Regions from separate parts of the Homo sapiens genome. Here region 2 is linked to region 1. A link means that fine-mapping ties the variant in region 1 to the expression of a gene that starts in the linked region. Tissue or cell type: pancreas. Region 1 holds a variant in brackets; the other region holds the start of a gene. All regions are shown on one strand. Distances are from middle to middle.

Region 1 (8,000 bases):
TGAGCAATATAACTGATGTCTTTTTTTTTTTTTTTTGAGACAGGGTCGCACTCTGTCACCCAGGCTGGAGTGCAGTGGCGGTAATCATGGCTGACTGCAGCCTCCACTTCCCAGGCTCAAGTAATCCTCCCACCTCAGCCTCTGGAGTAGCTGGGACTACAGGTGCATGCCACCACACCCGGCTACTTTTTATTTTTTATTTTTTATAGGGATGAGGTCTCTCTATGTTGCCCATGCTGGTCTTGAACTGCTGGGCTCAAGCAATTATCCCACCTTGGCCTCTCAACATGTTGTGATTATAGGCGTGAGCCACGACACCCAGTCGTGAGTGATGTCTTTATAAGAAGAGGAGATGGGACACAGACACGCACAGAAGGAAGAGCACATAAAGACACCGGAAGAAGACAGCCATCTATCTACAAGCCAAAGCGAAGCCTCAGGAGAAACCAACACTGCGGATACCTTGATATTACATTTGGAATAAAATGTATTGGGATAAAAACCCCAATACATTTCTGTTGTTTAAGCCACCCAGTCTAGGGCGCTTTGTTATGGCAAAGCACTCAGGCAAGCCAATATGCCACGTCTCTGCTGCTCTGCTAGGTCTCGGTGACTCTCTCTGACATACAGCATGTGCTCGGTGATACACCAGAAGAATAGAAATCACACTTAGAATCCAGCTCCTTCCTGGTCTGGCCCATTACAGGCCTTTCCAACTTCACATGCCACTCCCCCGTCACTGGCCACTGTTCCATGGGAAAATACACCCAGCTTGTTCCTACTACTGACCCTGTACTTGCCGAGCCCTCTGCATGGGTCTGTTTTTTTCCTGCCTTGGTCTTGCTTGTTACTGAGGTTTGGCAGAAACACCAGCTCCTCAGAGAGGACTTTTGGGCACCCAGTCCCCAAAACTCATTTCCCGTCACATCACTGCATGTGTTCATGGTGTGTAACTCCATCTTTCCTTGCTCACTTATTCATTTACCCAATTAGTTCATCTATCCACATCAGATGTGTGAGTTTTGTGAGAGCAGAAATCGTGTCAGTTGGATGTTTTCTGTTGCTGCTGTAACAAAGTAATGCAAATTTTGTGGCTTGAAACAATACATACATATATATATATATATACACACATAATTTTTTTTTTTGAAGTGGAGTTTCACTCCTGTTGCTCAGGCTGGAGTGCAATGGCGAAATCTCAGCTCACTGCAAGCTCTCTACCTCCTGGGTTCAAGCGATTCTCCTACCTCAGCCTCTTGAGTAGCTGGGATTACAGGCATGCCCCATCATGCCTGGCTAATTGTATTTTTAGTAGAGACGGGGTTTCTCTATGTTGGTCAGTCTGGTCTCAAACTCCCGACCTAAGGTGATCCACCTGCCTCAGCCTCCCAAAGTGCTGGGATTACAGGCATGCGCCACCGCGCCCCCAGCCAAAACAATACAGATATATTATCTTATAGTTGTGTAGGTTGGAAGTGCAACACAGGTGTAAGTTGCATTCCTTTCTGGAAGCTTCTAGGGAAGAATCTTTTTTTTTTTTTCTTTTTTCAGCTTCTAGAGGCTGCCTACATTTCTTGGCTCGTGGCTTTTTGCTCCGTCCTCCAAGCCATTGCATCTCTCTCTGACCATAGCCGGGAAAGTTTCTTTGCCTTCATCCCCACATGATTACATTGGACCCACTTGCATAATCCAGAATAATCTCCCTATTCCAAGGTCCTTAGCCTTAATCGCATCTCACAATCCCTTTTGCCATGTAAGATTACATATTCACTAATTCCAGGGATTAAGACATGGACATCTTTGGGGCGCATTATTCTGACCACCATATCTGTTTTTTCCCTTTATATGTCTAGTGTGGAGAACAGACCAGGAAATTAGTAGGTATTCATTGACTTTGCTGGGTAAATGAAAAGTTACCATTTATTGTGCAGATATGAGGCGCTGGGCAGATGCAAGGTGCTCTATGTGTGTTTTCTCATTTGCTCTTTACCATAACCCTCGGGGGTAGAGTTTACCCCCATTTTACAGCCCCATTTACTAAGGCTCACAGAGGTGACATGACTTACCCAGGGCCATCCAGCTAGTAAGTAGGAGAGCTGGGATTTGAACTTTTACCTTTCTGCCTCCAAAACCCAAAGTCTATATGCCCCTCTTTCGCAGCTCAGGGAGGATGTCTCGAGCCCGGGCGTGTTGTACCCACAGGTATCTTACTTACATCTGCTCACTGTGCCATGTCAGCACCGCCTGTTCCAAAGGCAGATTCAATGTTGCTTAGGCCGGCCAGGCACGGTGGCTCACACCTGTAATCCCAGCACTTTGGGAGGCCGAGGTGGGTGGATCACTTGAGGTCAGGAATTTGAGACCAGCCTGGCCAACATGGTGAAACCCTGTCTCCACTAAAAATACAAAAATTAGCCAGGCGTGGTGGCACATGCCTGCAATCCCAGCTACTCTGGAGGCTGAGGCAGGACAATCTCTTGAACCCGGGATGCAGAGGTTGCAGTGAGCCGAGATTGCACCATTGCACTCCAGCCTGGGCAGTAAGAGCAAAACTCCATCTCATAAAAAATAAAAATTAAAAAAAAGATTGCTTAAGGCCTGTCTGCCTCTCTTTCAAAGGGGAAATCCCTCAGCTTCTTTAAATAAATTCAATCCTGCCAACTAGAGATGAGGGTTGATTAGATGAGATTGGGGGAAGAAGCCCTCCTTCTCAATGAGTGGTCCAGAAACCAGCAGCATGGGCACCCCATGGGAGTGGTCAGAAATGCCGACACCGAGGGCCCTGAACTGCTGAGTCAGGCTCTTCTAATGATCCCTAAGTGGTCTGCACACACATCATGCCTTGGAGAAGCCCTGCTGTGAGGCACCCACGCAGATCCAGACACTCACTGACCATGGTGGGAGGTGGCACCTATTTTATTTTTATGATGAGAGGGAACCTCAAACTCTACTGTGATGTAAGTGGTCTCAAAGGCCCTTTGAAGTCACCATTTTATCTAAATCAGAAATAGGAAAAAAATAAGAAATGGCCAGCTTAGAAAGACTCAAATTCTTTTGCGGGGGGAAAAACCAGGAAGAAAGAAAAGAAAAATACATTGTTTCCTTGGCCATCTGTGTGAAGAAATAACAAAACCACCGTTGACATACCAGCAGGAAAGAACACTGGAGAGCTTCACTTGACAGAATTATTACAAACGCCTCTTCCTGGTTCAGGGGGAAAAAAAATTCCAAATAGGTTTGTGATATTTTTTTCCCTAGCATGCTTGCAACTCCCAGTAGAGCCAATAACCAGTTTTCAAAACCTTTTGATTCTACTCATCCCCTGGTTAATAATTTCCAGTTTACCCAGCAGGCTACGTAACATCCCCTTTCCTGGGAAAGAATTTCTGTGCCCCGGCTGGCAGTGAACTGGTCCCCTTAGCAGCTGACCTCCTCCTCCAGCCCTG[T/C]GGCTGCCTCCTCTCCAACAGGGACCCTCCTGGTGGGTATCCGGAACAGTGCCTTAGTGTTCCGCAAAGGGGAGAGGGAAAAAGAGAGGGCTGTCTCCCAGAAGGGTGAGTCTCTTCTTTAATCATCTGGAGCTGAGAAGAATTTTCTCCCTGTTTCCTGGGAAATAGCTGATAAAGGACATTTTGTCTGCTGCTGTTTATGTATACCTAGGCCGAACAAGTCTCAAAACTCTACCCTCTCCTGCCCCCTCCGGAGCTGGTACTTTGAAAACATAGGACAATAATGAAAGCCAAGAGCAGGCAGCCTGATATGGGCCTGGCACCCCATCTCCTGTTTCCTCCTGCCCGCTGCTGCAGCCGGCTTTATGCCAGCTGCAGCCACCAGGGACAGGTTGGCTTCTCCACCCTTGATGGCCCCGAGAAATATTTCTTTCAGGGCATGGCAGAAGGGGACTTTGGGGAAGGTGGGACCCTCCCTGCAGCCAATAGCACGGGCCCCGTCCCTCCCCCCATGCAAATCTTTGGCCAGCAGCCTTGGTATCACCAAACCTTGCCGAGATAGGGAGTGCCATGAAGGGCTCAGTGAGTTTCTGGCAATCCTCTCCTCTGTTTATCTGAATGGGCCCAAAGGCTGCAAAACAAACCGGCAAACACCAGGGTGTTCCTGAGAGTATAGCTGCACTTCCTGTTTACAGGCTCAGGGTGAGAAGCCCCTGAGACCCATTCTGCCTGTGTCAATTTCTTTCTGCTTCCTCTGAGATCCGTGATGTGGGAGGGCAAAGGGTTTCCCTCCCGCCGCCTGGAAAAATAATATGCAGGCCGGGAACATGAGCTTGCCTGTGAAGGCTGCTCAAAACGACACACTTGCAATTTGGGGTTTGTGACTAAGGTTGATTCGATCCCAGGTCTTCTGGTCCCTCTGGGAGCATCTCAGACCCCGTGAGACAACCCACTTTGGGACTCAAGGGTGGTAGGGAGTGGGGAATGGGAAGGGCACCTGTAGAGGCATAAATTGCTGGGCCCTGCCACCCCACCCATCCTCACACCACTCTCGCCCCACCCAACCTCATCCCACCCTACTCATCACCCCCACCCTCACCCCCACCGTCACCCCACTCCACTTGCTGTGTGTCCCTTGCTTCCCATGCTTCCCTGTCCTGGACCACAGTGAAGCAGCTGGGAATTCCAAGCACAGGGCTTCCTACCTTCAGCACCAGTGGTGACACCAGAGGTGGATTCCAAGAATACCTGAATGACCTACAACACATTCTGTCCAGGCAGGAGGGGTGGTGGCACTGCCTCCAGGAGATGGCCGAGGTATCCGGGGGTTAGGACCCTCTAGTTTGTTGCAGGGATGTCACAGAGCCTTGCTACTGAAAGTGTGTCCAGGGACCAGCAGTATTGTCCTCACCTGGGAGATGGTTAGAAACATGGTCTCACACCCTGTCCCAGACCCACTGCATGTGAACCTGCAGTTTAGCAGACGCCGCAGGTGACTCCTGCACACATTAAAGTTGGAGAAGCGCTGCTTTGGAGGACCCGTCCCTCTGTCCTCATTATGAGGATGCCTGCGCTGACTTTGGACAGCTTGTGCTTTTTAAAATCTCGTGGGCATAAATGACTCTTTGTGACTGATCTTGTTTCTCTCTTTGCTAAGAAAAGCAGGTTTAATCTGATGTAAGTGTCAGCTTATTTGGCCTCCGATATGTGGCATGCCACATATCGGAGACCAAATAAGTATGTGCATAAGTGAAGGATTTCATAGCTAAATTCGATGTGCCCGACACCTGAAAATTCAAACACCAGAAGGGCCAGGCAGGTGACAAAGATGAACGAAGTGGGCTGGGTGGGCCAGTGAGGACTGGACAGCCAGTGACCTGGTGGAAGCGGCAGCAGCTACTCCAACCCAGCCCATTCTTGTCATTCAGGGACCAGGCTCAGGGTTGCCAGATCCCAATATCTTCAAGAGAAGCCTGAATTTGAATTTTTATGAAATCACCCAACATTGAAATATTGGCAATTAATTAAAACATTAAAAAAAAAAACCCAAAGGCCAGGCGCTGTGGCCCCTGCCTGTAATCCCGGCACTTTGGGAGGCCGAGGCAGGTGGATCACTTGAGGTCAGGAGTTCCAGGCCAGCCTGGCCAACATGGTGAAACTTGTCTCTACTAAAAATACAAAAATGAGCTGGGCTTGGTGGTGCACGCCTGTAGTCCCAACTACTCGGGAAGCTGAGGCAGGAGAATCGCTTGAACCCGGGAGGCGGAGGTTGCAGTGAGCCGAGATCACCCCACTTTACTCCAGCCTGGGTGACAGCCTAAGCCTGTGTCTCAAAAAAACAAAAAACCAAAAAAAAAAAAAAAAAAAAAGGAAAAGAAAAACAAAAAAAATCCCCTCCTATGTATGACCCAGGCTTTATCCTGAGACTATGGATAAAACTGTGAACAAGACAGACACAGTCCCTGCCCTCAAAGAGTATGCAAGCTGGAAAATGGGACAGAGAGACCAGGAAGGTGGGAATGGCATTTCCTCAGGGAGACCTGCCTGTGCAAAGGCCCTGAGGTGCAAACAGCACATTGTAGATGGGGAGCTACAACCAGGTCAGTGCTGGGGAGCTGAGTCATGATTGAAGGAGGGGTGGAAGATAAGGATGAAAAGGGAGGAAGTGGCAGGTGATAATGGCATGTACTGTACATGCAGTTAAGGAGTTTGAACTAGGTCCTGCAGGCCTGGAAGGGTCATGAGTATGAGGATGACATGGCTGGAACTCAGTTTTCCTCAATTCACACCAGCTAATGAGAGGGGGATGGATTTAATGAGTGGGGAGTTGGAAAAGTATTAGAAGTCCAGACAGCAGTCGGGGGAGACTTGGGCAGTGGCCCAGGAACAAGGTGGTGAAGGCCTGAACTGGGGCACTGTGCAGGAATGGGAGGCAGTTGTGCATTTGAGGGCTGCACAGGAGTTAAAATCAGCAGGATGTTACCTACTTGATGGGGACCATTGGGGAGGTGGGGGCAGCCAGAGTTTCTGGCCTGGATGCCTGATGGACAAGGATTGCGGCGGTTGGAGCGTCTTGGCGGGGGAGATGACATGCTCGGTTCTGGGCAGACTGGACTTGGGGCTTCCTTGAGCCCTCTCTGGAAATGAGATGCAGACAGCAAGGTACTGCAGTCTTACTCAGTGAGGGGGCAAGGGCCAAGCTGAAAACCAGGACATTCTGAAACACATTTCTTTTTAGTAATTTGCCCCAGCTTTGTGGCTTCTCCACCCTGTTCTCTTCTCCCTGTGAGTTCTTTGTTTTTGTGAGTTGTCATATTACAGTCCATGGATTTTTGGGCCAGCCTGTAAATGGGGATAACAGTAGGTTCCTCCTCGCAGTGCTAGTGAGATTAAATGAGATAATACACTAAAAGCACACAGCACGGTGTCTGGCTGTAGGAAGATCCCATGATCACAACACCACATGTAATGTTAGTGTCATCATCATTAGCTGTGATTATTATTGTGATTATTAACATTAGTTACCATTATTGTTGTAACTACGCACGGATATGACCTACGAGGCCTCCTGCCACATGTGGTCCTTAGTTGTGGCCTCTTTCCCTGCCAACCTCAGGCCCGCTTGTATCTGTGGGAGGCAGTGGATAGCAGTGTTTATGAGCATGGCCTGTGAAATCACAGCCTGCCTGGGTTCAAATGCCAGCTCCACTTCTTACTGTGAGAGTGACCTCGGCCAAGTCACTTCGTGCTTCTGAGCCTCAGGTAGTTTCCCCATCTGAGGAAGGGGAAGATAAATGTATCTTGCTGTGAAGATAAAATGAGATAAATTGTCAAAGTACTCAGTGCACTGCCTGGCAGATACCAGCTGCTCCTTTATCATGTGCTCTTACTCTCCAGGACACCATCACCAACCCATCAGGCTGGCATGCACTCTCAAATCTACTGCCCCTAGCAACAGGATGCAGTTCATGTTCACTAAAATGACTTATGAGCTGCTTGCAGCGGGCTGAGTGTTGACGCTGCTCCCTGCCACTGGAAAAAAAGATATGCCCACATCCAGATCTCAGGAACTCATGGATGTGACCTCATTTGGAAAAGGGGTCTTTGCAGACGTAATTAAGTTAAGGATCTTGAGATGCAGTCATCTTGGATTATCTGTGTGGTCCCTAAATCCAATGACAAGTGTCCTTACAATACACGCAGAGAGGAGAAGCCTGACAGGAGAAGCAGAGATAATGACTGGAGACAGGGATTGGAGAGATGCAGCCACAAGCCAAGGGATGCTAACAAGCACCAGAAGCTGGAGGAGGAAGGAAGGATTTTCCCCCGGAGCCTGCAAAGGGAGTGCAGCCCCGCCCACACTTTGACTTTGGACTTCTGGTCTCTGGAATGCTTCGATAAGAAATGGTTGTTTGAAGCTACCCAGTTTGTGGTAGTTTGTCACAGCAGCCACAGCAAACAAATCCAGTGCCCTCCACCCTTTTCACCCTGAAACCGCATGAGGACTGGGTGGAGTAGGCAGGCAGTCTTGGCCATCCCCATTTTAGAGAGGAG
Region 2 (8,000 bases), 56 kb after region 1:
ACAGTTTCTTCCAACTTAGACAATTGAGTATTTCTTTGAACATATGATTTCAAAGGATTCTTTAAAACACTTTAACCATTCATTTATTAGTAGGGAACATACTCATATTGTTCCACATTTGAAAAGTGAAACGAGTCAATCATGACAAACCTCCCTTCCACCCTGTCTCTCAGGCACACACTCCTCCTCCTCCCTCAAGGCAGCCAATGCTTTCAGTTTCATGCGTCATCTTGCAGTGATGTTTTATGCAAATATAAATTTTATATATAATACATTCTTCCTTTTGTCCAGTTTTGCACTAATTGTAGCATGCTCAACATAGTATCCTGATCCGTATTTTTCTCTGAGATTTTTTTCATGGTGATATGTAAAGAGCCTTCTTGATGACAACGTAGAACTCCACTCTATGATTGTACCACCAGGATAGTCCCCTACTGATGGACAGTTAGGTTATTTCTAATTTATAAATAATCTTGTAATTAAGTTTGCATATATCACTTCATGCAGGGGTAGATCTATTTGCAGGATAAACTCATAGGAATAGAACTTCTGGGTGAAAGGGTTATACTATTCTAGCATAACTGGCTGTGAACCGCTGGGCCACTCCACATGTCCTTCTGTCTGAGTCCCTCCCTAGTCCCACCCAATGATGCAGACCTGGGCGACAGTTCTGAGAGGTGCTGAGCCCAGCCATGTGGCCCCTGGCATGGTTCCATGCCCCTTGGAATATGGCAGTGCCCAGAGTGTTCTCCTCAGATTCTTGGCTGGAGACGTCTCAGGGAGGCCATCCTGTGACCCCCATGCCCGTGGTCCCACATCAAGGATCATTGTTTCACTGCCGCTCTTCAACCACCAGCCCAGCCCCATTCCTACCCCCTCCTCCAGCTCTATGACTTCACCCCTCACTCCCAGAACAGAGGCAAAGCCCAACGAAGGCCAAGGCAGCACTGTGATAGCCAGAACAATGGCCCCTCCAAAGCCATCCATGTCCCAATCCACACAATCTGTGACTATGTTGCCTTACATAGCAAAAGAGACTTTAAGATATGAAGTCAAGGATCTCATGATGGAGAGATTATTCTGCATTATTTGGCTGAGCCCAGGGTAATCGCTAGGGTCCTTAAAAAATGGAGACGGGAGGCCGAAAGTGAGTCAGAGAGAGTCTGGAAGATGTTATGCTGCTGGCTTTGGAGTGGAGGGAAGGGTCGTGAACCAGGGTATATAGGTGGCTTCTAGAAACTGGGAAAAACAAAGCTATGGCTTCTCCCCTAAAGCCTCCAGGAGGAATGCAATCCTGCTGACACACTGGTTTTAGCCCAGTGAGACCTATTTTGGACTTCTGACCTTCAGAACTGGAAGGTAATAAATTTGTGTTGTTTTCAGCCACTAAGCTTATAGTAATCTTTTACAGCAGTAACAGGAGACTAATCCAACAGTCCCCGAACTGCCCCGCGTGGGAGTCCAGTGCTGCCTCTCTCCTGCCTCCCCTCTCTCAGAAGGCCTGGCTTCAAATCCTTGTTCTCCTTACCCACCGGGTGCTTTTGGGTACATGCAGCATTTCTTTGGGCCTCAGTTCTCTCATCTGCAAAACGCAGCACATGATCAAACTGTCACAAGGTTGCCGGGAGGTTAAATGAGATGATGCTTGTGAAGTCTCTTAGCAACTTTGCCTGCCATGAAATCGGTGCTTGATATTTTTAGATGTTGAGCATAATTCTGAAACTTTCAGTTGTCCTCCCAGAACCTACTCCTGCTCTGGCCCTGGCTAGGGCCCTAACTTCCCCTAAGGAGACAGCCCCTTCCTGCAGTGCTTACACCCAGCAGAGACCCTCAGGGAGGCAACTCTCTCCTTTCAACCGGCCCCAAGGAACCAGGGCCCTGAGGTGCTGTTCCCAGCAAAGAGGAAACTCAACCCAGGTTCAAATCCTTTTTTTTTTTTTTTCTGCCACTTCCCAGCTGGGTGGCATTGGGGGAGTTACTCCACCACTCCGAGCCTTGGTTTCCCCCTTTGTAGAATACCCACAGTGAGCCCTAGCCCAGGATGCTGGCCCAGGAGTGTGCTCATGGCTGGGCACGTAGCAGGTACTGGATAAACAGCTTCAGTGCACTGCCCTCTCAGCCAGGACCAGACCCCAGACTTGGTGGACCCTGGGGCTCATACAGTGTGTAGCGCCTCTTTAAGAAGGAGCCTCTGAACTTACAAACATACAATAGGGCTTCTGATGGGGCCTATGCCGGGGAGGCATCCTGAGGCCTGAATTCCATTCGCTTCTGCTTTCTGCTCTCAATCCCTCCTCCTCCGTAATGACCGGGCCAAACGTGTTTCAGAAACGTCCCTCCCAACTTGCCTGAATAAGCCCCAGGAGCCTGAGATTTTTACGAAATTGTCAGAGGCAGTGACCATCTTAGTCTCCCAGCAGGATCCAAGCTCCCTTGGTAAGTGAGCAAGACTTTTGATGGAACAAAAGCAAAATCTCTATCTGATGAGATTAGCTCCTTGGAAAAGAGCACACAGTTCATCTCTACCTTGCTTGGACAGTAGAGCTGCCAGATTAAAACAGCAACAACAACAGCTATATACATATGGATTCAATTTAATTTGAATTCCAGATAATGAATAATTCTTTAGTATAAGTATATACCAAATATTGCATGAGACATTTAACTGGATGTCCTGAATTTTATCTGGCAGCCCTGTCTGTCAGAGACACAGCAACATGGCTATTCAAATTCAGGATGTGTTTTGCAGAAGTGTTCCTGCTTTGAGAAGCAGCTGGGGGCCCTTGAACTTCAGCAGAATAACCAGTGGCAGAGGAAGGGATATGGGAAGCTGCCCCCGGGCAGGTTGGTGACGCTTTTAACAGCTGCACCCAGAGCCAGGTGGTCAGGGCCTGAACTGTAGCCTAAAATGAGCCTTGCAGCCACCCCCAGAGCAGGTGTTGGCACACCCATTTCTGCAGATGTGAAAGCCAGAGCGCAGCAAGAAAGGAACACCTTGTGAGCACCTACTATATGCTGGCATCTTACACGCATTAGCTCATAGCTAAGAGTGGGCAGATTTTGTAGCTGTTGCTATTAATGTAATGCAAGCATCAGAGAAGCATTATATGAAAAATAAGTCTTCTTCCCCACATTTGAGAGCGCTCAACCTCTTAAACCTCTCAGCGATTCCTCAGCCTCAGCACTATTGACATCTTGGGCCAAACTTTTTTCTTTTTTTTGTCGTGGGCTGACCTGTGCACTGTAGAATGTTTAGAAGCATTCCTGGCCTCTAGCCACTCAATGCCAGTGGCACCCCCCTCCCCGCCCCGTGACAACCAAGAAAATGACTCCAGACATTGCCAAATGTCCCGTAGGAGGCAAAAATCGCCCCTGCAAAACCACTGCTCTAGAATAATCACTGTTAATCATTTTGTGAAAGGGAAATAAATCTTGGGACCCCAAAATCACTAGGCCAAAGGGAAAAGTCAAGCTGGAAACCATGTTGGGCAAACCCACCACCCATTTCCTTCCTGAAGAAGATAGCTACAAAGATTTTTAAAAGCTACTTACCTTCCTCACAATTTTCCCACAAGGAAATTCCTTGTGGGCCTCAAGATCTTCACCCTAAATTAGTTCTGTTGAATTTCACCCTGGCAATGTAAACCAACAGCTGATCTTCACAGATGTGGGACAGAAAGTCATCCCTCTGCTCACCTGAAGCAAATGCCTATCCGATTGCTTCCTCTGCCCTATTGTTTATGTAAAAATGCTGATTCACTGAGCCAGACTAAGGCATAAGTGACTATTCTTCTACGCCCCCGCCCCCCACCACCGCATGTAAATTGTGTATTCAGTGAAAGGCTGATTAAAGACTCAAAAGAATGCGACTATTTGTCTCTTGTCTACCTATGACCTGGAAACCACCCCCTCCACCTTTCTGGACCAAACCAATGTACATCTTACACATATTGATTGATGTTTCATGTCTTCCTAAAACATATAAAAGCAAGCTGTATCTCAACTACCTTGGGGCCAAACAATTTTTGGCCTCAGGACCTCCTGAGGCTATGTCATGGGTGCGTCCTTAACCTTGGCAAAGTAAACTTTCTAAACTGATTAAGACTGTCTCAGATACTTTGGGTTCACACTTCCTTGAGAATATTTTTAGAATACTTCTAAGCACATGTGTATGCCTTTAAAAAACAAAACCAAACAACGACAACAAAAAGACAAGGCCAGGCTCAGTGGCTCACCCCTGTAATCCCAGCACTGTGGGATTACAGGATCTCTTTGAGCCCAGGAGTTTGAGACCCGCCTCAGCAACATGGTGAAACCCTATCTCTACTAAAAATACAAAAAACTAGTAAAGTGTGGTGGTAGACACCTGTAGTCCCAGCTGCTTGGGAGGATGACTTGAGCCTGGGAGGAGGAGGTTGCAGTGAACTGTGACTGAGCTACTGCACTCCAGCCTGGGTGACAGAGTGAGAGCTTGTCTCAAAAAAAAAGTTTTAAAGAGACAGGTTAATATATACACCTCTTTTATCACTTGCCTTTTTACTTATCAGTATACCTTGGACATCTTTCTGTACATCCCACTCATGAATCTGCATTTCTCCTTTGACAACTACGTGGCATTTCTTTGTGGGTATTGCTGCCATTGATGTAACCAGTTCCCTCACTACTGAGGCAGTTGAGTTGTTTCCAGTGTTTTGCTGTTACAAACAGTATTCCAGTCAGCATTCTCACACATGTATCTTGATATATCCATAGGATAAACCCCTAAAAGTGGAATCACTGGGCCATAGGTGTGTTCAGTTTTAATTTGATGTGCCACATTATATCCAAAATAGTTTGTACAATTTACTCCATTGCCGCTAACATCTTGATGAAAAGTACCAAACATTTAGTGAGCATTGACTGTATTTCATACACCATGTTAAGGGATTTACATGTGCTATCTTATTTAATTCTCACTATAATTCTACTGGTAGGAACTAATATTATTTCCATTTTACAAATGAAAGAACTTTGGCTTAGAGTGATTAAGAGTATTTTCTAGGCGGGGTGCGGTGGCTAATGCCTGTAATCCCAGCACTTTGGGAGGCCGAGGCAGGCGGATCACCAGGTCAGGAGATTGAGACCATCCTGGTCAACATGGTGAAACCTTGTCTCTACTAAAAATACAAAAAATTAGCCCAGCGTGGTGGCGGGCGCCTGTAGTCCCAGCTTCTTGGGAGGCTGAGGCAGGAGAATGGTGTGAACCCAGGAGGCAGAGCTTGTAGTGAGCCGAGATCGTGCCGCTGTGCTCCAGCCTGGGCGAGAGAGTGAGAGTCCATCTCAAAAAAAAAAAAAAAAAAAAAAGACTTTTCTAAGCTTGTCAGTGACAGTACCGGGATCCCAACTCAGAGCTCTCTCAGTCTAAAACCTGTTCTCTTCACCAATACATTTACTCTTCATAACAATTGTGTGAGCTGGGCCCCATTATTCCCATTTCCAATGGGATTACTGAGGCTCCAAGTAGTTAAAGTGACTTGCTCAGGGACATAGAACCCAATCACAAATCTGAGCCTGACTCCAGAATCTGTGTTCTTCTCTTGAGACTCCATGCCAACTCCTCCAGGAAGCTCTCTGGGATTACTCCAGCCATCCTTATCATCTAACCCCCAAGAGCAGCTCCTTGGGAGCCCTGGGAATCTGCAGCAGGCATTTCAACTCAGAGTGCATAGGTGTGTGGGTGTGTGGGATCTCACAGATGTTGAAGTCAGACAGACTAGATTAGAAACCCCTATGCCATCTACCTTCTGAAGTGAACTAGGGCAAGAGACCCTCCCTCTTGGGGTCTCAGTTATTTCATCATTATGATGCTCGTTATTACTGTTGCTATTAGTAACATGATAACAGTGATTACCCCTTATGGAGAGCCTTCTCTGTACCGCCTTTTACAGTGGGTAGTGTTTTAGTTTAGGTCCCTCAGGAAGCAGACACTGAGACAATGATTTGGGGCAAGGTTTTTATTTGGAAGGTGACCCCAGGCATCTTGGTGAGAGACTAGGGAAGTGACACAGGGAACAGAGTAAAACCATGGGATGGTGTGTGATGGACAGGTAATTGCCAAGGCTAGCTGGGCTCCAGCCTGCTGGGGACCTCTGAGAAGTCATGTGGCTCACGCCATGGAATACCCTACCCAGGCAATCCTCAGTGGTTGGGGGTCACTCTCGCTTTGTTGACTACAAGGCATTCCCACAGCCTCAGGTGGGGGCTGGGGTACTGTCTGCAGGTGGCCAGTAGCACAGCCTCCCTGCAGGCAATTTACAGGAGCCTCAGAATGAATTAATCACCACTCACATTGTGTTTACCACTGACCTTGTGTTTTAATTATCATTGACCTAATTGCCATTGACCTTGTGTTTTTTTCCTGTGAGTTCTGTCACTCTTTGGAGGGTCTATGCCTTGTACCTCACTTGGGTTTTTTGCAGTACCATGTGGGGCATGGCATAAACCTCCATAAATTGAGGCTGATGATTTGAATCCTTCAGTCATCAGCAAATATTTACTGTGTACCTACTATGTACTACGTGCTGTTTAAGAAATTAGTAGACTTCGGCCGGGCACGGTGGCTCACGCCTGTAATCCCAGCACTTTGGGAGGCTGAGGCGGGCGGATCACCAGGTCAGGAGATCGAGACCATCCTGGCTAACACGGTGAAACCCTGTCTCTACTAAAAATACAAAAATTAGCTGGGCATGATGGCGGGCGCCTGTAGTCCCAGCTACTCGGGAGGCTGAGGCAGGAGAATGGCATGAACCCGGGAGGTGGAGCTTGCAGTGAGCAGAGATTGTGCCACTGCACTCCAGCCTGGGTGACAGAGCAAGACTCCATCTCAAAAAAAAAAAAAAGAAGAAATTAGTAGACTTCATTTTTTTTTTTAGCAGTTTGAGGTTTATAGAAAAATGAGTGGAAAATACAGAGTTCTCATCTACTTCCAAAGCCCCCCAATCCCGTTACCACCTGTTATTAACATCTTGCATGGGTGTGCTATATTTGTTACAACTGATGAGCCAATACTGATACATTTTTATTAACTAAAGCCTCTAGTTTACATTACGGTTCCCTTTTTGTGTTGTACATTCTATGGCTTTGCACAAAGGCATCGTGATATGCATGATGCCACTATTCCCTGTGATCCACCTATTCAGCCCTCCCCGCTTCCCGCCCCTTCCCTCCAACCCATGGCTCCGGTGACTTTTTCAATGCTGGGAGTACAGCTAGGACAAAATAAAATTTCTGTCTTCAGGGAGCTAACATTTTAGTAGGGAGAGGGATAATATGTAAGCCAGCAAATAACACACCCAAGTCCAGGCGATGATAGAGGCTGTGAAGAGAATTTGTGTGGCTAGGGGAGGGGAGCTCTTGTTTAGACAGGATGGTCAGTGAAGGCCTCTTTGAGGAGATGACACTTGAGCAGAGCCTTCTCTGGCCGGAGACCCAAGGAGGCCAGGCTGTGGCTCCGAGGACTGTGCTGCTGAGAGGCTGTGAAAGATTCCATAGGCCACAGTGGGTGGACCCAGAAAGGCACGTTGACCCCTCACAGTAAAGGGAGGTGTCATGGCTGAACTGGGTCCCCCTGGCCTCAAATTCATATGTTGATGTCCTACCCCTAGTACCTCAAAATGTGACCACATTTACAGAGAGCATTTTTTTTTTTTTTAGACAAAGTCTCGCTCTGTCACTCAGTCTGGAGTGCAGTGGCACCATCTCAGCTCACTGCAACCTCTGCCTTCCAGGTTCAAGTGATTCTCATGCTCAGCCTCCTGAGTAGCTGGGATTACAGGTGGGCACCACCACACCCAGCTATTTTTTTTTTTTTTTTGTAATTTTTAGTAGAAATGGGGTTTCACCATGTTGGCCAGGCTTGTCTTGAACTCCTGGCCTCAAGTAATCCACCCACCTTGGTGTCCCAAAGTGCTGGGATTACAGGCACGAGCCACGGCACCCAGGCAGAAAGAAAGAGGGTAAGA

Which allele goes with the higher level. Alleles are on the strand shown, and positions count from the first base shown. SD is a standard deviation of normalised expression in the study named.
For the expression in pancreas of the gene that starts at base 3,742 in region 2, C is the high allele of the variant in region 1 and T is the other (large effect, 0.85 SD a copy in GTEx).

Evidence for each region. PIP is the estimated chance that this variant, and not a neighbour inherited with it, causes the effect.
Region 2: it holds the start of LINC01484, and the variant in region 1 is fine-mapped to the expression of LINC01484 in pancreas (GTEx, PIP above 0.99). The same link has a PIP of 0.9 or more in liver and lung.

What each region holds. Positions count from the first base shown.
Region 1 is chr5:173,686,076-173,694,075 of GRCh38, forward strand. It overlaps LINC01942 (long intergenic non-protein coding RNA 1942), which reads left to right and starts at 3,384. Exons shown (of 3, transcript NR_146727.1): 1 at 3,384-3,478. RefSeq lists enhancers at 4,020-4,099, 4,200-4,249. The variant T/C (reference allele first, on the strand shown) is at 3,447.
Region 2 is chr5:173,742,468-173,750,467 of GRCh38, forward strand. It overlaps LINC01484 (long intergenic non-protein coding RNA 1484), which reads right to left and starts at 3,742. Exons shown (of 3, transcript NR_108027.1): 1 at 3,553-3,742. RefSeq lists enhancers at 1,515-1,564, 1,695-1,864.